3 linked regions of the Homo sapiens genome follow. The protein of the gene in region 2 interacts with the protein of the main gene of each other region in a biochemical or structural test. Each region holds a gene or a part of one and is shown on either strand. Other genes may lie near its edges.

The links.
Region 1: the proteins of RBBP6 (region 2) and CPSF3 form a complex in vitro, tested with the Homo sapiens proteins (one study listed by BioGRID and IntAct).
Region 3: the proteins of RBBP6 (region 2) and ZBTB38 form a complex in vitro, tested with the Homo sapiens proteins (one study listed by BioGRID).

What each region holds. Positions count from the first base shown.
Region 1 is NC_000002.12:9,440,588-9,447,696, forward strand, and holds part of CPSF3 (cleavage and polyadenylation specificity factor subunit 3), read left to right. Parts: coding exon 1-79; intron 80-1,230; coding exon 1,231-1,389; intron 1,390-2,927; coding exon 2,928-3,074; intron 3,075-7,109. UniProt on the Homo sapiens protein: Component of the cleavage and polyadenylation specificity factor (CPSF) complex that plays a key role in pre-mRNA 3'-end formation, recognizing the AAUAAA signal sequence and interacting with poly(A) polymerase and other factors to bring about cleavage and poly(A) addition.
Region 2 is NC_000016.10:24,542,461-24,549,569, forward strand, and holds part of RBBP6 (E3 ubiquitin-protein ligase RBBP6), read left to right. Parts: intron 1-3,702; coding exon 3,703-3,802; intron 3,803-6,484; coding exon 6,485-6,521; coding exon of another isoform or gene 6,522-6,575; exon of another isoform or gene 6,576-6,941; intron 6,942-7,109. UniProt on the Homo sapiens protein: E3 ubiquitin-protein ligase which promotes ubiquitination of YBX1, leading to its degradation by the proteasome.
Region 3 is NC_000003.12:141,363,756-141,371,576, forward strand, and holds the start of ZBTB38 (zinc finger and BTB domain-containing protein 38), read left to right. Parts: upstream 1-4,748; 5' UTR 4,749-5,049; intron 5,050-6,116; 5' UTR 6,117-6,191; intron 6,192-7,821. UniProt on the Homo sapiens protein: Transcriptional regulator with bimodal DNA-binding specificity. Binds with a higher affinity to methylated CpG dinucleotides in the consensus sequence 5'-CGCG-3' but can also bind to E-box elements (5'-CACGTG-3').

The sequences.
Region 1 (7,109 bases), on a different chromosome or scaffold from region 2:
AAATGCCATGAATGACAAAATCCGCAAACAGATCAACATCAATAATCCCTTTGTTTTCAAACACATTAGTAACCTCAAGGTGAGTGCTTGTGGAAGAAAGACAAGGATGGATAAAACCAAATCAGTCATTAGTAGTAGGAGGTACGAGGCCGTGAGTGATGGCTCACAGCTGTAATTTAGCACTTTGGGAGTCTAAGGCAGGAGGATCACTAGAACTCAGGAGTTTGAGACCGGCCTGGGCAAGATAGTGAGACCCTGTCTCTATCAAAATAAAATAAAAATCGTAGGCAGTGCTTGTCAGTGACTCTGGCTGAATTCCTCTTGCTGGAGTCTTACCGCTTCTCAACAGGTGTCGTTTTTCTGCAGAAAATCAAAACTTCAGCAGCTGACATTCTTTTTCTGCTTCAACAGATTTTGCCACTTGCCCCAAGTAGCCATGTGTTCTCAGTATTTATAATACTCATCTCTTTTGCCGTAGGCATAAAAAGTTCTGAGGAGAAAAATATTTTGTATTATGTATTTAAGTTTCTCTTCTCACTCAAACCAAATCATCTTTTTGATTAGTGCTGCAAATTCTATATATGAAAATTTTTATATACTTTTCTGGAAGCATTCAATAAAATCTGATTTTATTTAATTTAAAAAATACTGTTTAACTCGATGCTTGAATCATAATAAAATAATTGATATCCGAAATAATTTAAAAGTGGACTTCCAGTTGTAAATAGGCTTTGTTCATAAAGTATTTATTTTAAGTTAACTGCTTAAGGATTGTAGACAAGTTCTCCCTAGAACAATGTTAAACCTTTTGATTTCCAGGCCAGCTCAAAACATGCATGGAGCATGCAAAGCTATTGTGAGTCTTTGGGAATATTTTTTCAGAGTTGTGTCTTGGGTAGATCAAGACCCATTTGACTCTTCCTTTTACTTTTCTGCCTGCCTGCTAGGCGCTGAAGATGGTCCTGATGGTTCTGATGGCCCTCTAGCTACCAACAGAAGGTTTTGAAGATCGGGGTGAACTTACCGCTTTTTATTACTTGGTTTTTCTACCATTCCTAGCCTAAACTGTTTAGGAATTTGGCAACTGAACTTAAAATGTTTACAGATCTTGTGAAGGCTCTTTCAGTGATGTGATTAATCTCTTAGCCTTTTGTTATTCTTTAAAAAGAAAGAATGCTTTGTCAGCTGCTGGTAGCTAACATACTTTTCCCATTCTGTTTTCTCTCTTAGAGCATGGATCATTTTGATGACATTGGTCCCAGTGTTGTAATGGCCTCCCCAGGCATGATGCAAAGTGGCTTATCCAGAGAATTATTTGAAAGCTGGTGTACTGATAAGAGGAATGGTGTCATTATAGCGGGATACTGTGTAGAAGGGACACTTGCCAAGGTCAGTTACAGTCATAGGCTGTTGTGTTATTCCTATTCAGAATCACGGAGGTGGCACGGTCCTCACAGGTTTTTGCACTGAAGTAGTTCTTCAAATAATACAAGTTTTGATTTTTAAAAATGAGGACGGGAATAGGTAGCTAGAGATGTGCGTAGGATGTAGAATTATGCAGACACTGAATGGCATAATGAGGTCCCAGGTGATTGATATACACATTAAAGTTTGAGAAATGCTCATCTGGTTGCAAGTAGAGAAGAATGGACAGGAACCTGTTTGAGACAAACACGTGAATACTCTCCGTCCTCTCATGAAGAAGAGGTTGACTAATACATATGATCTTAAAAAGCTGTAGAATGTGTTTGGGTTGACCACTTTCTACTATTATGAAACATTGATTTTCAGCTCTTAGGGATGTAGAAATTGTAGAAAATATATGCAGAACTTGGGAGGCAGTTTCTGAGCATCCAGGCATCACATTCTCATCCTCTATTTTATTTTTAAAAATATGATATGATTCTTTGATAATCTTTATTACTTTACCTTATTCTATAAAGTTCTTTAGTGACAATGTTGTATTTAAAATAGATTTCCAGGCTGGGTGCAGTGGCTCACACCTGTAATCCCAGTACTTTGGGAGGCCAAGGCGGGCGGATCACCTGAGGTCAGGAGTTCGAGACCAGCCTGGCCAACATGGCGAAACCCCGTCTCTACTAAAAATACAAAAAATTAGCTGGGCGTGGTGGCGTATGCCTGTAATCCCAGCTACTCGGGAGGCTGAGGCAGGGAGAATTGCTTGAAACTGGAGGCGGAGGTTGCAGTCAGCCGAGATTGGCGCCACTGCACTCCAATCTGGGTGACGGAGCAAGACTCCATCTCCAAAAAAAAAAGAAAAAAAAAATTTCCAGGCCTGGCACAGTGCCTCACATCTGTAATCCTAGCACTTCAGGAGGCCACAGCAGGTGGATCACTTGAGCTCAGGAGTTGGGGACCAGCTTGGGCAACATGGAGAAATCCCATCTCTACAAAAAATACAAAAATTAGCCAGGTGTGGTGGCACGTGCCTGTAGTCCTAGCTAGTTGGGGGACTGAGGCAGGAGGCTTGCTTGAACCCAGGAGGTCGAGGCTGCAGTGAGCTGAGATCGCACACTGCATTTCAGCCTGGGTGACAAAGTGAGACCCTATTTGAAAAAACAAAGATTTTCAGAATAGAAATATATCCACATATCTAGGAAATGACTTTGGAGAGCACAAGAATAGTTGGGAATACAGGTTTGTCTTTCTAAGCATAAGAGTTATGATTCTCACTGCCAGCACTCCAGATAGATGAGTTTTAGTTAATTTGTTTACTTTTCTCATTAAATGTTTGCTTGATTGAGAACATGAGTATTTGATATTTACTGAGTCAGTTATATTAGAATGATTTTGTGCGTAAGGTCCTAAATTTAACATGAATTTATGACTGCATGAAAAAAATGAAAATGTACCTTTACGATTATAACTGGGTAGTTTGTTTTGTTATTTTTCTTTATTTTCCACAGCACATCATGTCTGAACCTGAAGAAATCACTACTATGTCTGGACAGAAGTTACCACTGAAAATGTCTGTTGATTACATTTCTTTCTCAGCTCACACGGATTACCAGCAAACCAGTGAATTTATTCGTGCTTTGAAACCGCCTCATGTGGTTAGTCTATGAATTTCATTTATTGTATTAAAGGGAAAAAAAGTGCATACCCAGGAAACTGTGCAGCAGGCAGTTCACAAAGCAGGCATCATCACCTACTAATGCGACACCCCCTGAGCAGAGCCTTTCACATGCACTCGGATTTGGCCTTTACAACTCCCCTTTGATTTCAGCAAGCTGCCCCCTTTCTCCAGAACTGACTGACTCAGACCTACCAACCCCAATCCTAATGTTTTTCTGTTATTTTCTGCTGCCTCTCCAATAATTTAAGAGCCAGGCTTGGAGTATGACTGCTCATTTGGAATGCCAGCTCCATCTCTTACTTACTATGTAACCCTTGGCAAGTTACTTAACCTCTCTGTACCTCATTTGTAAATAGGAATAATAGCTCATAAGGTTATTGTAAGGATGAAGTGAAAGAACATATCTAAAGCACTTAATATGGTGCCTGGCACATAGTAAATGCTTAATATATATATTATATATATATATATATATTTTTTTTTTTTTTGAGGCGGAGTCTTGCTCTGTCACCCAGGCTGACTGCAACTCCGCCTCCCGGGTTCAAGCAGCTCTCTGCTTCAGCCTCCTGAGTAACTGGGATTACAGGTGCCCACCACCACACCCGGCTAATTTTTGTATTTTTAGTAGAGATGGGGTTTCACCGTCTTGGCCGGGCTGGTCTTGAACTCCTGACTTCATGATACACCCGCCTCGGCCTCCCAAAGTGCTGGGATTACAGGCGCGAGCCACTGCACCCGGCCGACTTACTTATATTTTTAAGTATCGTGTAACTTATTAAAAATAAGTTAGATATTTTGATGGAATTGGAAAGGAGGGGTAAGCTGAAAAAAGTGTGTATTTTTAATTAGAAGAACACTAATGAAGCATGTGTCCATAGAAAATAGATGACGTGCCCTTTCCAAATGTATTGGAAAGCAGGAGAAATGGCCTTTTGTTAGTTTTGTTTGTTTGCTTGTTGTTTGGGGTGTTTTTTGGTTTGTTTGTTTGTTTGTTTGTTTGGATGAAGTCTTGCTCTGTTGCCTAGGCTGGAGTGCAGTGGCGCCAATCTCAGCTCACTGCAGCTTCTGCCTCCTGGGTTAAAGCAATTCTCCTGCCTCAGCCTTCCGGGTAGCTGGGATTACAGGCACGTGCCACCACGCCCAGCTAATTTTTGTATTTGTAGTAGAGACAGGTTTTCACCATGTTGGCCAGGCTGTTCTCAAACTCCTGACCTCAGGTGATCTGCCCGCCTCGGCCTCCCAAAGTGCTAGGATTACAGGCATGAGCCACTGCACCTGGCCTTGCTTGTTGTTTTTTAAATACGTTTTACTGTGGTAAAATATCTAACATAAAATTTGCAGTTTTAACCATTTTTAAGTGTACAAACCAGTGGCATTAATTATATTCACAGTGTTGTACAACCATCACCACTGTCTATTTTCACAGCTTTTCATCACTCCAAGCAGAAACTCTGTACCGTTACACAGTAACTCCCCATTCCCTTCCGCCAACCCTGGTAATCTCAAATCTACTTTCTGTTTCTATGAATTTGACTATTCTAGGTATTTCATATAAGAGGAATCATAATGCCTATGATGTTTTCAAGGTTCATCATGTTGTGGCATGTATCAGCACTTCATGCCGAAGTCATGGTCCGTTATATGTAGACCACATGTTGTTTATCCATTCACCTGTGGGTGGACACTCGGGTTGTGTCACTTTACAGCAAATGTGAAGTGGTATCTCGTTGTGGTTTTTATTTTCATTTCTCTAATGACTAATGATGTTGAGCACCTTTTCATGCAGTCTTTTGTTCGTTTTTGAGTTTTTTCTAGCATGATAGGCCTCACAGGTATTTGCCACTGGCCCTTAATGAGCAGATTATTTGGTCAAGAAAAATCACTCTCCTGTCTATAGCATCACAGTGTGTAGGGTTTAGTCACAGAGTAGGCTCCTCCCAGGTGTTTCTTATTGTCTGTGTGCATGAACACTCCCCCAGATTTCCAAGCCAGGGAGGAAAAGCCGAATTGCTCTTTTGTGTGGTGTCACCACCTCATCCTCAGCCCCATTTCATCCTGTCACTCTCCTGGTTCTACTTCTGCTGACAGTTTAAGTTCCTGGGTTGAACTTCATGCTCATTTTCTTGTGATAACCAGCTCCAGCAAAAGTATAGCTGCAGGATAAAATTGCAATACTAGTAGTGTTGGTGGTAGTAATGAATACTAGCTAACATTGATTATTTACCATGTGCCGGACACTGTATATGTGTTTTATATGAACTGACTTGCTTAATCTTCATGACCGACAGCTGTTCTGCAGATGAGACAACTGAGGTGTGAAATCACTTGGTCAAGGTTACACAGCTTAAATAAGCAGCAGCACCAGGATTCTGTTCAGGCAGCCAGGCCCAGGCCCTTCCCCAGCAAGCAGTAAGCCCCTGCCACGTGCTGGTGCTGGCTATGCCCAGCCACAAGCCATCTACCACATGTGAGAGGCTAAGAACAATCTATCTTGGCCGGGCTGCAGTCCCAGCACTTTGGGAGGCCGATGTGGGTGGATCACTTGAGGCCAGGAGTTCGAGACCAGCCTGGCCAACATAGTGAAACCCCATCTCTACTAAAAGTATAAAAATTAGGCAGGGCACGGTGGCTCATGCCTGTAATCCCAGCATTTTGGGAGGCCAAGGCGAGCAGATCACGAGGTCAGGAGATGGAGACCATCCTGGCTAACACGGTGAAACCCCGTCTCTACTAAAAATACAAAAAAATTAGACGGGTGTGGTGGCAGGTGCCTGTAGTCCCAGCTACTCGGGAGGCCGAGGCAGGAGAATGGCGTGAACCTGGGAGGCGGAGCTTGCAGTGAGCCGAGATCACGCCACTAGACTCTAGCCTGGGCGACGGAGCGAGACTCGGTCTCAAAAAAAAAAAAAAAAAAAAGTATAAAAATTAGGTAGGCATGGTGGTTCACACCTGTATCCCAGCTACTTGGAGGCTGAGGCATGAGAATCCCTTGAACCCTCGAGGCAGAGGCTGCAGTGAGCCAAGATCACGACACTGCACTCCAGCCTGGGTGGCAGAGTAAGACTGTCTCAAAAAAAAAAGAACAATCTGTCTTGTAAGATAGAAGTTACAAAAGTGAATGGAAAGGGACTGGTAGCTAATGCTGTTGTTGTAAATACCCTCTAAAATATTCCATTTGGGGCTGAGCACAGTGGCTCATGCCTGTAATCGTACCACTCTGCAAGGCTGAGGTGGAAAGACTGCCCAGAAGTTTGAGACCAGCCTAGACAACATAGTGAGACCTTGTCTCTACAAGAATAAAATAAAACTAGCCAAGCATGGTGGCTCATGCCTGTAGTCCCAGCTACCTGGGTGGCTAAGGTGGGAGGATTGTATAAGCCTGGGAGATTGAGGCCACGGTGAGCCAAGATTATGCCACTGCACTCCAACCTGGGCAACAGAGCAAGACTCTCTTTAAATAAAGAAATATATAAAGTAATAAAATGTTCCATTTGGTTCTGAAATATTTTATTAGGATAGGTACAGTGGCTCACGCCTATAATCCTAGCATTTTGGGAGGCCAAGATGGGCAGATCACTTGAGCCCAGGAGTTCAAGACCACCTTGGGCAATATGTGAGACCGTGTCTCTACAAAAAATACAAATATTAGCCGGGCATGGTGGCGTGTGCCTGTAGTCCCAGCTACGTGGGAGGCTGAGGCAGGAGGATTGCTTGATCCCTGGAGGTTGAGGCTGCAGTGAGCCATGATCACATCACTGGACTCCAGCCTGCGCAACAGAGTGAGACCCTGTCTCCAAAAATATATCAATATATGAGGTAGGCCAGGCACAGTGGCTCAAGCCTGTAATCCCAGCACTTTGGGAGGCCAAGGTGGGTGTCAAGAGTTCGAGACCAGCCTGACCAACATGGTAAAACCCCGTCTCTACTAAAAATACAAAAAATTAGCCAGGCATAGTGGCGTGTACCTATAGTGCCAGCTACTCGGGAGGCTCAGGCAGGAGAATCGCTTGAA
Region 2 (7,109 bases):
TTTTTTTTTTTCCCCTGAAACAGAGTCTCACTCTGTCACCCAGGCTGGAGTGCAGTGGCACCATCTTAGCTCACTGCAACCTCCGCCTCCCTGGTTTGAGCGATTCTCATGCCTCAGCCTCCCAAGTAGCTGGGACTACAGGCATGCGCCACTACACCCAGCTAATTTTTTTTTGTATTTTTAGTAGAGATGGGGTTTTGTCTTGCTGGCCAGGCTGGTCTCGAACTCTTGGCCTCAAGTGATCCACCCACCTGGGTCTCCCAAAGGGCTGGGATTACAGGCATGTGAATGCAACTTTAGACTGGGTAAGTTATAGTTAAAAGAATCCTGTCCGGAAATTTAAGAGTTTTGTGACTTTGTGTAACCAATTTTTTTTTCCTAGCCCAGGAAATAAATGATACGTAATTCAAACCCAGAAAGCCAGGAATGTGTTTTTGCCCAGCACATTTTCTTTTTTATATTTATGTGAACTGCCCTTTATTGGAGAAAGCTTTGATGTTCGGTTTGTTAAGAAAAGGGAGCTTTGAGGGAGAAAATGTGTATTTTATGCAGTCCTCAAATTAAGAGAGAAAGAGATATTGATGGTAGCTACTTAACTAGTTTTATGGGAAATAGTATCCAATGTCACAAGGCAGTTGAGTAGAATGCCATTTGGTTTTAGCACCGATATTCAACATATTTACTAAAGAAAACTATGGTAATCTTTTTATCACAGTTAAGGTCCAGTTTCTTAATTTCATTCTTATAATTTTAAAATCCCTAATCTACCATGTTTCTGTAAAACATTTCCTTACAGTTTTGGAATTATGTGCATGTTTAGGTCCCTTAAATCTTTTTTTTTTTTTTTTTTGGAGACACATCCTCACAGGCTAGAGTATAATGGCACAATTTTGGCTCATTGCAGCTTCAACCTACCAGGCCCAGGTGATCCTCCCACCTCAGCCTCCCAAGTAGCTGGACTACAGCCACACACCACCATGCCTGGCTAATTTATTGTAATTTTTTTTTATTTTATTTTGGTAGAGATGGGGATTTTGCCATGTTGCCCAGGCTGGTCTCCTGAGCCCAAGTGTTCTCCTGCCTTGGCCTCCCAAGGCCATCCCAAAGTGCTGGGATTATAGGCTTGAGCCACTGTGCCTGGCATAGGACCCTTAAATCTTGATAAGACTGAAACGCTTGGGTCAGAATTCCATGGATTTTAGACAAGAATCCTGCTTGTTTCTAGACTGTATTTCAAAATGAATATCAAGTAATCTTTGTTATATATGAGAAACTTTTCTGCACACCGACCCCTAAAAAACAAAACATCCTTCGTTCTGAAATTAAAGTGTGAGAGGTTTGGAAGCTGAATATGAAGTGTTTATAAATGACCCTTGTCACCTTTCTTACTCTCCATTTCTCGGATTCATTCTGTTTTTCATTTCATCCATGCCTTTCATGTCTGGGGTCAAAAAAACTGGCAAGCAGAAAGGGTCTTTTGAAGCCAACAGACTACTTGTTAAGGAGGTATTTTAAATGAAATACCCCCAAAGTGTCTTTATTACCCCTAGAAAGATACTTTGAGGGGTAAGAAATCATTGTAATTCAGGTATTTAAAAAGTCAGTTAGAACATCTGTTTTGAAGGGCATTGAGGCACCTTTTAGTTTGACACAGTACGGTGCTAATCAAATTAATAAGCTGTCTTGGAAAGCTCTTGTGAGTGCATTGAGTTGTTACATATTCAGAAACTTCCTGTCAGGTGTTTGACACAAAGTTTTATTTCTAGAATTAACTTTTAAAAAAATCTAGTCACCCCATGCTCTCAGTTTTTCTGACTCAAAGCTTCCTCGGAATTTGGGGCTATCATGAACTGTCCAAGATAAAGATTATAGTCCTACATTGGCATGCCTAAATCTAGGAAATTGCCTACCTCTAATTGAATGCCTGTGAGATAGTGCCTTCTACTTGAAGTATATAGAAAATAACCCTTGCCTGAACAATTTCATTTCTAACAATACTATTAGCATTATGACTAAAAATAATTAATATACATTAAAAGCCGAATATGCCTACATATGTGGTAAGCGTAATAATCGGAAGAACAGAGATAGTCACTTTGTGCAGAGTAACTTTAAGTGAAGCAAGTAAACTTAATGACAATAAAAAGGCCTGGTTGTGTGATTAAAGGAGATGGATACATTTTTGCATCTCTAGGTAATTTTTCTTTTTGGTAATTTTACAGATTCTTTCTGTAGCAAATCTTTTTACCATAGTTAAGGTCCATTTTCTTAATTTCATTCTTATACAAGTATTGCAAATAGCCCAAGGAGTGTAAAAATAGGATCCATTCTTCTCCCTCTTGGTTTTCCCAGAAGGTGACATCACTGTTTATCCGATGACTGAAGCCAGGAACCCAGGGATTCCTCTGGCCTGATTCCTCTTTCTTCTTCATTTCCTTCATCTCCCCCATATTCGGTCCATCAGCAAGCTTTGTCAATCCTACCTGCAAACATTCTGTCTTTATTTCTCACATCATAACACAGGTCGTCATTATCTCTACCTGGATTTTTTAGCAGCCTGGTTATTAGTCCCCTGGTTTCTACTCTTGTTCTCCTACAGTTTGTGCTCCACATTGGTGCCACAGTAGTCTTTTTTTGAGACAGAGTCTTGCTCTGTCACCAGGCTGGAGTGCAGTGGCGCGATCTCGGCTCACTGCAGCCTCCCAGGTTCATGCCATTCTCCTGCCTCAGCCTCCTGAGTAGCTGGGACTACAGGCGCCCACCACCAAACCTTCCTAATTTTTTTGTATTTTTAGTAGAGATGGGGTTTCACCGTGTTAGCCAGGATGGTCTTAATCTCCTGACCTCGTGATCCGCCCCCCTCAGCCTCCCAAAATGCTGGTATTACAGGCGTGAACCACCGCGCCTGGCCAGTAGTCTTTTTTTCTTTAACAAAAAGCAAATAATCACTTTGCTTAAAATCCTTCAGTGTCTTCCTGTTGCACTTCAAAACAAAATATAAATCAGTGTATGGTCTATACCTTTCTGTCATTCTTTTCTTTTATTTTCTTAGGCTCTTCAAGCCGTTTCGTATCATTTTTCTACATGCTTTTTTTATCCTTTGCCTGAAATAGTCCTCAACCAGTTTTTTTCCTGTATCTGGCTGGGTTCTCAGTCTTTAAGTATCCAGTAGAAGTTCCTCCAAGGGGCTTTCTTGGAATCAACATTCTATCTGAAGTTGTATTCCACTATTCATTCCTTATTAGAAAACCATTTTCTCTTTATTCATAACGTCATAATTTAATTTTTAGTCTATCTTCCTCAGTAATAATTTCTGTGAATGCAGGGATTGTAATACTCAACTAACGTTTAGGGACTAGGAGAGACAGAATATCTTCATTCCGAATAACGGCTTTTTCACCATTCACATGTTCAGCATTTCAGACTAAACTAAAGAATGACGGTGTTACTGAGATTTGGAGTTCCACAAAAGTAGAAGTGCTAGAGCCAAGAACCTGCTGATGATATTGGTTGTCCTTTGAAAAGAAGCCCTCTTAGGGCTTTGGATGTTTGTTCTGACAATATCAGTAATCTAGTTGCAAGGAACTTGTAGTTATTATATTTAAAGTCATTTCCCATGAAATTTATATTTGAAGTTTTCTAATTCTTGGTTACGCACTCAAATCCCCAAATGGAAATTCAATTCTGTCTTTTTATTTACAGAATATACTGATGATAATGCTCTGATTCCTAAGAATTCTTCTGTAATTGTTAGAAGAATTCCTATTGGAGGTGTTAAATCTACAAGCAAGACATATGTTATGTAAGTATCAAATCTCATGTATTTCTCAAAATAGACTTTTTTTAGTTTTTTTAATTTTGTGAGAAAAAACTGTATTTTAGAACTGAACTCATTACTTTAACCTTAATGAATACATCTTCTCAAGACTGTGAGGATAGTAGGTTTCTTTGTTCGTTTGTTTTTGATTTCCTCCCCCAGTTAAATTGACTTAGCCTGTTGTGAGAGGGCCATTATTAGGAAAAATTTTTCTCCATATGGCCAGTATTTACAGATACAAGAAAGTGATATTCACATTATTTCTGTGCCTTTCTTTGACTACTTTTTTTTGTGGGGGTTCCTTCAGTTTTCTTCACTACAAAAATTTGGTGTTGTAGACATCGGTCCTAAATATTTTGACAGCATCAAGAGTATTCAGTAATGCTAACATTTACTCTTTATCAATAAGGGGCTTTGGCTGAGAGGCATAAAGTATATAGGATTTATAATCATGGGCACTGAAATCAGGCTTAGATTTGACTCCATTTACTGCTTCATACCAGTTGTGTGACTTTGGACCTTGGGTAAGTCTCTGTGCCTCAGATTCCTCAAAAATAAAATAGGGACGTGAGTACTTAACTCTAGAGGGTTGTAAGAATTAAATAGTGTCTGGCACATGCTAAATGCACATTATTGGAGTAGGAAGAGAGCAGTCTCACAACTAGTCCGGAGCTGGTATTCACTAACCTGGGGCAGGATTAAAACCTTATATCCTTAACTTTCTCTGCTTTCTTGCAATTTCAGTAGTGATAGCAGAACTATAATATGTGAAAAGGGCAGCAACATAGGTTATTTAAAGAGTAGTGATTTTCACTTAGAATTAGGTAGTATTGTTTGAAATTGGAACAAATTATTTTGAGTCAATGAAAAATTCTAGAATTTGCCAGTGCTAGGGAATGGAAAGTGTTCTTGAAATTAAGGTAAAAATAAAGTCATTTCTTGGAGCTTTACCTCATATGGGCAAGTATTCTAAGATTTTTCTCATTAGTTTGTTGTAAAGTTATATTCCATATCTTAACACTTAGAGGTCCTTTTGTGCAGTATCTTCCATATAATAGCTACTTTAAAAAGCTGAATACTTTCCTTGTTGTAATTGCCAAGTGAACTTTTAATGGTGTGTGTTCTTAACTTTAAATGATTCTAAGAATTATATATATATGTGTGTATATATATATATTGTTTTGTTTTGTTTTGTTTTTTCCTGAGATGGAGTCTCACTCTGTTGCCCAGCCTGGAGTGCAGTGGCACAATCTTGGCTCACTGTAGCCTCCGGGCTCAAGCGATTCTCCTGCCTCAGCCTCCCAAGTAGCCAGGATTATGGGTGCCCACCACCAAGCCTGGCCAATTTTTGGATTTTTAGTAGAGACTGGGTTTCACCATGTTGGCCCGGCTGGTTTCAAACTCCTGACCTCAGGTGATCCACCCAACTTGGCCTCCCAAAGTACTGAGATTACAGGCGTGAGCCACCGCACCCAGCCTAAGAATTATAAATTTATGGGGAGAATTAATTCCTACAATCCAGTGTGAAATTTTACTTTAATTTACCAAGTGCTTTTTAAAAAATGGCAAATGTATTTTCTGTAGATTTTTTGATAGAAACTCTTAAGAATTATTTGAAGTACATGGCAAAATAAGTTGCCTCTTACACAGAATTATATGTTAATGTACAATATATAGGGTTCTGTTTGTAATAAATTTGCCTCATAAAATGCATCTCAGTTTTTTTTTGAGCAAATACTAGAAAATCAAAGCTCAGTTTTTTTTTTATCTCAAATTCCAAATTATACACACACCTAGAAACTCCTGTTAGATGCTAACATTTCTCTATAGTCAAGATACCTTAAACTTTAAGCATTAAAAGGCTATAATCTAGCAACTCAACTTCTTCCCCTTTCCTGTGTGGATTAAAATAATTTCTTTTGGGGTTTATGTCTTTTAAACATCAAATTGTCCAGTTCTACACAGCCATTTAAGTCAGTTCTTTTAACTAAAATACTCTGATTATATTGTGTTTTTCTGGGAGTGAGAATTTTTGTTCAGTTTTTTTTTTTTTTCTGTTTTTAAGAGATGGGGTCACTATGTTACAGCCCAGGTTAGTCTCAAACTCCTGGGCTCAAGTGATCCTCTCACCTTGGCCTCTTGTTCAATCCTTGATTGTTGTTTTGAGACATTTGAAAAATGAAAATAGCTATCAGCCTGGCCCTCCAGATTTGAAAATTAGTTTTGGGAGCACAGCAATTTCTCAGGGATTCAAATTACAAATGTTAACAACAGCAGTCTTCCTGATGTGTGAAAATTTACGCATTCAGAAACTGGGAAATTATATAATTTAAAATTTTCAGTTTATTAAGAATAAACTACGTTTCTAAACATAAAATCCCTATACTACCTTTCAGAAAACATTTGTTTTAAGTGGCAGGGTACACCTATTTTTGAATTCCCTAGTATGGAATTTTTTTCCAAACCACAAATCTATCTTAAAACTGCTCAAAGGTGGTAAAGATTAATCAGAGTAATTTATTCATTCAGAAATTGGCTGTTAAATATTTATACCAAAGGAAAATTAGGTTCCTAAAAATGTATTATTGAAGATAATGTGTTAAAATTTATTAGCACAAAAATTCATAAATAGCTAATGTTAATTTTTGTTTTTATTTTGTGTTTTAGAAGTCGAACTGAACCAGCGATGGCAACTACAAAAGCAGTATGTAAAAACACAATCTCACACTTTTTCTACACATTGCTTTTACCTTTATAATGTAGCAGTGAAGTAAATCATTTTAGAACTTAATATCCAACTGATCATAGTACATATTGTAAATAAAATGTATTTTGATGACAGCTCAGTTGAATATGGATAATATGTGGCATCACTTGCACACTTATTTTGTAGAAATGGGTAATTTGTGCCCGTAACACTGTTTCATATTAAATATGATAGCATTATCCCTGTATGACACTGTGTTGTACAGTTAATGTATGATCCTTTTTAGATCGTTTAGGTTTTACACTAAGGAACATGATGACATGTTCTACATTTGTCTGTCTATAGTTAGTATTTTGTATGTATGTACAGGCTGTTGTGTGCTTTTTGTTTCTTGCAATAAAAAATGTTTGGAGTGTATATTTTGCCATTTTCACGTTGTATCACTTAGTTTTTGTTAGTTTTTTTTTTCCTGCCTGATTTATGGCTTCCAAAAACGCATTAGCAACATGCAAAGCTTATATTAAAGTTTGATGCTTTCTCCAAGTTCAAACACATCATAGAAAAGAGCTTTCCAGAGACCATTGA
Region 3 (7,821 bases), on a different chromosome or scaffold from region 2:
TGGGACAACCAGATAGCCACATGAAAAGAATGAATGTGGATCCCTACCTCACACCATAGGCAAAATTAACTTAAAGTGTATCATAGATCTAAATGTAAGAACTAAAACTATAAAACTCTCAGAAGAAAACTCAGGTGTAAATCTTCATGACCTTGGGTTAGATAATGTTTTCTCAAATATGATGCCAAAAGTACAAGTGATGAAAGAGAAGATTGATAAGTTGGACTTTATCAAAATTAAAAACTTTTATGCTTCAAATAACACCAACCAGAAAAGAAATGACAACCATAGACAGGGAGATAATATTGTAAAATATATATCTGGTAAGGGACTTTTGTCTGGGGTATATAAAGAATCCCTAAAACTCAAAAATTTAAAAAAAAAAATTAGGCCGAGTGTGGTGGCTCACGCCTGTAATCCCAGCACTTTGGGAGGCTGAGGCAGGCAGATCACCTGAGGTCGGGAGTTCAAGACCAGTTGGACTTCATCAAAATTAAAAATTTTTATGCTTCAAATAACACCAACCAGAAATGAAATGACAACCATAGACAGGGAGATAATATTGTAAAATATATCTGATAAGGGACTTGTGTCTGGGATATATAAAGAATCCCTAAAACTGAAAACTTTAAAAAAAAAATTTTAGTCCAGGTGGCTCACACCTGTAATCCCAGCACTTTGGGAGGCTGAGGCAGGGAGATCACCTGAGGTCGGGAGTTCAAGACCAGCCTGACCAACATAGAGAAACTCCATCTCTACTAAAAATACAAAATAAGCCAGGTGTGGTGGCACATGCCTGTAATCCCAGCTACTCGGGAGGCTGAGGCAGGAGAATCGCTTGAACCCGGGAGGTGGAAGTTGTGGTGAGCTGAGATTGTGCCATTGCACTCCAGCTGAGGCAATAAGAGGGAAACTACATCTAAAAAAAAAAAAAAAAAAAAAAAAAAAAAAAAAAGCCCAATTTGAAAGATAAAGGATTTGAATAGACAGTTCTCCAAAGAAGATATACAAGTGACCAATAAGCTCCTGAAAACACACTCAACATCATTAGTCATTTGTTAAATGCAGTTCAAAATCACAATGAGATATCACATTGTACCCACTAGGATGGCTATAATAAAAAAGACAGGCAATAACAGCATTGGTGAGGATGTGGGGAAATCAGAACCCTCATAAATTGCTAGTGAGAATGTAAAATGATGCAGCACTTTGGAAAACAGTTTGATAGTTTCTCAAAATGTTAAACATAGTACGATATCACTCAGCAATCCCACTCTTTTGTGTCTACCCAAGAGACATGAATGCATGTCCACAAAAAAAAAACTTGCACATGAATGTTCATAGCAACATTATTCATAACAGCCAAAAAGTGAAAACAACTCAAGTGTTCATCAACTGAGATTTGGATAAACAAAATGTTGTATACCCACACAGTGGAATATTATTTGGGCATAAAAAGGAAAGAAGTACTAAAGTATTCTATGCCTTAGTTCATTTGCTGTTGCTTAAACAGAACACTTGAACCTGGGTAATTTATAAAGAAAAGAAATTCACTTCTTACAGTTATGAAGGCTGAGAAGTCCAAAGTCTAGGGATCACATCTGGTGAGGACCTTCTTGCTGGTGCGGACTCTCTGCCAAGTCCCAAGGTGACACAGGACATTACATGGCAAGGTGGCTGAGAGTGCTAGCTCAGGTCCCTCTTCCTCTTCTTATAAAGCCACAAGTCTCTCTCTTGTGATAACCCATTAATCCATTAACCAATTAATCCATTAATCCATGAGTGGATTAACCACCTCTGAAAGACCCCACCTCTCAGTACTGCCATATTGGAGATTAAATTTCAACATGAGTTTTGGAGAGGACAAATATTTGAACCATATATTGTATGATTCCATTTGTAGAAAATGTCCAGAAGAGGAAAATCTATAGAGACAGAAACTAGATGAGTGGTCATCTAGGGCTGGTAGGTGGGGACAAATGAAGAATGATACCTAATAAGCATGGTGTTTTTTGGGGTGGTGACAAAAAGTGTTAAAAAAAAATAGATTACAAATTACATAATTCTGTAAATACACTAAAACCCATTGAATTGTACACTTTAAGTGAGTGAACTTTCTGATATGTAAATTATACCTTAATAATTTTTTTTAAAGAGAGGGAATAAAATGAGAGAAATCTAAGTCAACAAGTATAGACAAGTCTTCCAAGGAATTCCTTGCATTCATAAAGGTTTGGTTTTAATTACCAGCATTTAACTGCATTTGTTGTAGCAAAGGAGGAGGATGCTCCACTTCACGTAGAGACCAGGGAAGTGCCATTGTACTTACTTCTCTGTATCTCCAAGTGGATATTTTTCCCAGTTCTCTGATTTTATTTTCACTGTTAGTATCAACCCCAGAGCATATAACCCAAGAATCTGTGTCTCACTTAAGCTTACTGATCATTTCTGCTTCTTTTCTTTATTTTTCTGTTCACATTATCCTGATAGGATGCAGGGTGAAGAAATAATCAGCCTCTGTTCATCTTATTAGAGAAATAAATACCTGTGTATATGAAGCAAGCAAGGCCACTGAGTCTTTGGGGAAACAGAGCAGGGAGGTGCCCAGAGGCATTTTCTGCAGAGAAGGAAGAAAAGAATAAACAAGTCTTCTGCCAAAAATGCCTGGAACTTAAAGCGATTTCCTCAGCCCAAGATCAGGCTGTGTGCAGACACTGACAGTGAACCTGATCAGTTGCTGCTGCTCCCTTGATTAAAAGCATGTAGCTTTCTCTCTTGTGAAATTCACCTCTATAAATTCCACCTGCCTAGGGATTCAAACTACATGGAACAAGTGCAATTCCTCAGAGTGGCAACTGGCAGAGCTCCCAGGAACAAGGTAGAACTACACAATGTCCCAGGCATCAGAGGCATAGATTGCCTGAGTCAGGGAGAGTGGTCTCTGTGACCTGACACCCCACCCACAGTGGGAAGGAAAGCTGTGGGTGTGTTATCAAGGAGGCCTCCACAAGGGGCTGGAAATTCCTGGTTTTGTCTTCCTCTTGGAATGAGACATTTACTCTAAGAGAATCATGGAAAAGTACAAACCACAGAATCATAAACCACAGAGGGAGAAGCTACCTCGTAGGTCATTCTTATGCTGGGCCCAGATACCCCGATAAGCAGATGTTCTCTTCTCACCACCCCTCCTCGCCTTTGCTTGCCCACAGCCATTGCCAGGACTCTTCCTCAGGCCCAGAAAGGCAGCTGATTCCTGGTAGGAGGGCGCTAAGAGTAGAAAGTAACTACCATTGTCAGGTCCAGATCTGTTCCCAATCCCTTCTCACTCCTCCTGCACTCTAAAACCACACCACAGTTCCAACTCTTTCTGAGTCTGGAATCTTTGAGAGTGCCGTCATGTCCTTCTTCCTGTAGCCTTCTTGTCCACCCCAGATGGACTGACCCTCCCACCTACATCCATGAGGCCAGAAGGCAACAAAGACAAGCGTGGACTCTGGCTCCCGCCGAGGTACTCTGTACCCCGTGGCTCTCGGATTTTGCATCTACCACATGCCACAGGCTTGCGTCCATCCGACCTCCCTAGTTTCTCATCCCCACTTGAACCTGATGACTGATTCGCCCTCCTGGCTACGCTGAGTAAGCCACCCACTTGCCAAACCTCAGACCTGGTGTTGACGCAGTAAGAAGGCATGAGGCCCATGTTGCCAGAACATTCCTAATTGTTTCATTGTTTCCTTGTAGGATGTGGTTTCAAGTCCCATCTTTGTCTCTTTTCTCCTGGCCAGGTTGCCCTTGGTCAATATTCCTTCATTCACTCCAGCCACTCAGCACCGTGATTAAGAAAACAGGATGTGAGATTAGATGATCCAGGCTCTGCCATGAACTAACTAGCTGTGAGGCTTTAGAGAAGTGTCTTAACCTCTCTGAGCATCCATTTCTTTCTCTATAGCATTAGGAATATTAATAGTACCTACCTCACAGCTTTTTTGTTGTGATAATACCAATAAATGAAATAATCTTCATAAAGCACAGAGGCTTGAATGTTCACTCTAAGTATTTAATATGTGTCCTCTACTATTTTATTTTACAATTATCATTCCTTAATTCATCATATAATTACCAAGCCTCATGCCAGGCACTGAGATATAAATATCCCCTTTAAAGAGTGGTCATGTCTTAAATCCAGGAAGAGCTAGTTCATGTTGGCACCCAGGGTAGGGAGCGAAGCCCAGGGCCACAGCACAGAGGCAGAGGAGAATAGACACTGACCACCAGGAGCTGCCCGGGGATGGTGACAAAAGTGCCTTCCACCTTTCCGCATCTCTTTCAATACCACTGCAACTCCTTGAGTAAGGTGGGCACCACACAGAAGAAGGGGGATGGCAGAGGGGCAGTGAGAGGTCCCCAGGGAAACACCCTCTTCTTCTTCCCTGCTTCTCTGACAGAGCACGGCCATGCCTCTGCCATGCAGGAGGGTGATGTCCTTTGGGGAGGCCTTGTTGAATCTGTCTGGGGCTGTTCCGGAAGTAGGAAGGGCGGCTGGGGGTGGGGAGACGGCAGGAATGTTCTCCTGGCCTGCTGGTCTGTGCCGGCGAGTGTGCTGAGAGGAGGGCCTCTGGACATCAAAGGTTCCTTTTGTCCCCTTCCGAGTGGCAGGGCAGCCCGGCCCGGGCTGCTGGCGATGACTCAGGCCTGGCCCTGACGTCACCCACGCCCGGCCACTGGCCTCCCTCTGAAGCCAGGAAACTAGTTGGGGAGTGGCACTCGCAGCTGCAGCAAATCTCAAAATAAAGAGGCAACGGCCTTTCTCTTCCTCTCCATCTCCCTATAGCACACCTTTTATTTCTTTTCTTCTTTTTTTTAAGCCTCACGAAAGATTTTACTTGTAGATCAACTTTCAAAATGTAGGAAGTCAGAATGGGTGACATCATCAGAAAAATATGTGGAGCTGATCACAAGAAGTGAAGAACCCAGAGCACGAAAGCGGTTGTGACTCCTGGGCCCAGGGAGTTGACAGCGTCTGGGTTTCAGAGGAGCCAGCGCCTCCGAGTAAGTGAAGGCCCACTTTTGGCCCCCCCTCACTCAGCGCCCTTCACCGTAGGGCGCCATCTTGTTCCCTGACGCCTACAGCTTGCCAAGCCCCAGCCCAGAGTTGGGAGTAGGGACTGCATTTGGGAGACCCTCTAAATACGGCCCCAAAGGGATCTGATATCTCTCTCCACAGGATCAGAAAAGAATGCAAAAAAAAAAAAAAAAAACAATACTAAGACGGAAACCCTGGGGAGAACAGCCCAACTGATGCCTTTCCCTGTCAACCCTCTTGTTTTGCCTCCTCTTCCTCCCCTCACCTGAGTATTCCGTTTCAGGCTGTCAGAATGTTTGTTCAGAGTTCTGGATTGTTTGCTTCCTAGATCTTATACTGAGCGATCAGACATAAAAATAAACCCTGTTCTAGGCAAATACGTGTCCTGTGCCATCAAATGGTATTTTCACACTTAACCTGGTAAAATATGACAGCCCTGGTAAAAAGATGTACATAATTGTGCTGCCTTTACTGAGCACGTTTCTGATTGTTCTGTGTATGAACCTCCATTATCTTATCGCCCTGTTTACAGAGGACTTATTTTCATTCCTACTTGTGCCATCGTATCTGGGATGATATTAAGCACAAAGACACAATGTGTCTGTTTTAACTTTGTCTAAAAACTCATAGTTCTTTACAAAGCCTATAATTTCACGACCTCTGGAAGTTCCTACCCAAGAAAGTTAAGTTCCCAAGAGAAAAGTTTTGACACATACATGAGAACAGCACGTAGGCATAGAAATCATACCCTGATTTTCCCGGCTTCTAAGTCATCCCCTGAGTCAGCATCTAGTCTTCGTATAGCTGACGTACCAGGGGAGATCTGTTCTTCAGAAATTCTATGTTAAAATGACTGGGAGCGGGGAGGCGTAAGTCTCATTTTAAAGGCAGTAAGGAAGCTTGTCATTTACTGGAAAACAGTGGCATATTCCTTTGTAAATGGACAACTCCCTTTGGAAATTAACTATCACACACTAAAATATCTGTTTTATAGGCCTTATGTTTTACTTTTTGTTTTACTTTAATATATTAGGTTGTCTTGAAGTGAGGCTCTGCTGTAGTCCTGTTCTTCTGGCTCTAAGATCTGAATGTTGTGACCACTAATTTGGTAAGTGTCATTTGTCCCCAACAGCTACTTAAATTTAAGTCTCCCAATTCTCCTTTTTTAGTTTGTGGTAAGATTCAAAGAAAAGGGGAAAGGGCACAGAGATTTCTGTACACAATGATTACAGCTATATTAAAAAGGATATTAGGATAGGCTAATTGTTATAATAGAACCCCAAATCTATAATGGCTCAAACACAATAGTTTATTTCTTGCTCATGTAACAGTACAGGTCAGTGGGGCAACTGTCTTTCATGCATTCATTCAGAGACACAGGTAGAGAGGGGCTTTGCCTTCTGCAGCATGTGGTTTTCAAGGTCGCCTAGGGGTGTCTCCACTCCTCAGTGCAGTAAGAAAAGAGCATGAAAAAGTGCACATGGGAGTTTTTTATGGGCTCTGCCTAGAAGTGGTGCGTGTTACTTCTACTCACATTCCATTGGCTAAAACTCCATCACATGACCACAGCTAACCACAGAGGAGTCTGGGAAATGTAGTCCTTGGTGGAGCAGCCACTTAGCAGTGACAGCTCTGGAGGGGTTTCTGAAGAAGAGGTAGTTCTCTCTGGCACAGCACATAAAAGAAACTTGGAGATACTCAAGGATAAAGTTGCATAGAAACAGTGGGAGAAGTAAACAATTATCCACATTTAGGTTTTCCTGACTGACACTCTTAGGTAACATCTGGCCATGAGGGCAAGATGCAATGGATGAGATTTCTCAACACCTCTGTCCATTATGACCCTAAGCATCATGTTGCCCATGGCCAGTGAACCATGAAGGACATTTTCCTTATTTCCTTTTACTTATTTTTCCTCTCAGGATCCTCTTGGTCTAGGACTATACTGGCTTTCTCTTCTTCCTGGATCTAGTCATATTAGTTGGAATTGTGACAGAATTCTGCTCCCCCAACTATGAGCCCCAGTGGTCTATAGGAAAGCTCTTGACTTCCTTAGCTCGTAGTTTTCTCTGCTACTGGAGGCTTTGGAAATGTATCCTACAGGATCTGCTCCAGGTCTTGGGACATTTGATCAGGGTGAAAATTCCCGAAGGTTAGACCTTTAAACCAAGTTATTAAACTGTTTTTTCTTTTCTTTTCTTTCTTTCTTTTTTTTTTTTTTTTTTTTTTTTTTGAGGCAGAGTCTCACTCTGTTGCCAGGCTGGAGTGCATCGGCATGATCTCAGTTCACTGCAACCTCTGCCTCCCAGGTTCAAGTGATTCTACTGCCTCAGCCTCCTGAGTAGCTGGGACTGCAGGCACGCACCACCACACCCAGCTAATTTTTGTATTTTTAGTAGAGATGGGGTTTCACCATGTTGGCCAGGATGGTCTCCATCTCTTGACCTCGTGATCTGCCGGCCTTGGCCTGCCAAAGTGCTGAGATTACAGACATGAGCCATAGCGCCCAGCCGAGAAACTTTTTTTTTCTTTGAGACAGGGTTTCACTCTGTCACCCAGGCTGGAGTGCAGTGGCACGATCATGGCTCACTGCAGCCTCAACTTCTCAGGCTCAAGCGATCCTCCCAAGTAGCTGAGACTACAGGCATGTGTCACCATGCCTGGCTAATTTTTGTATTTTTTGTAGAAACAAGGTTTCACCATGTTGCCCAGGCTGGTCTTGAACTCCTGGGCTCAAG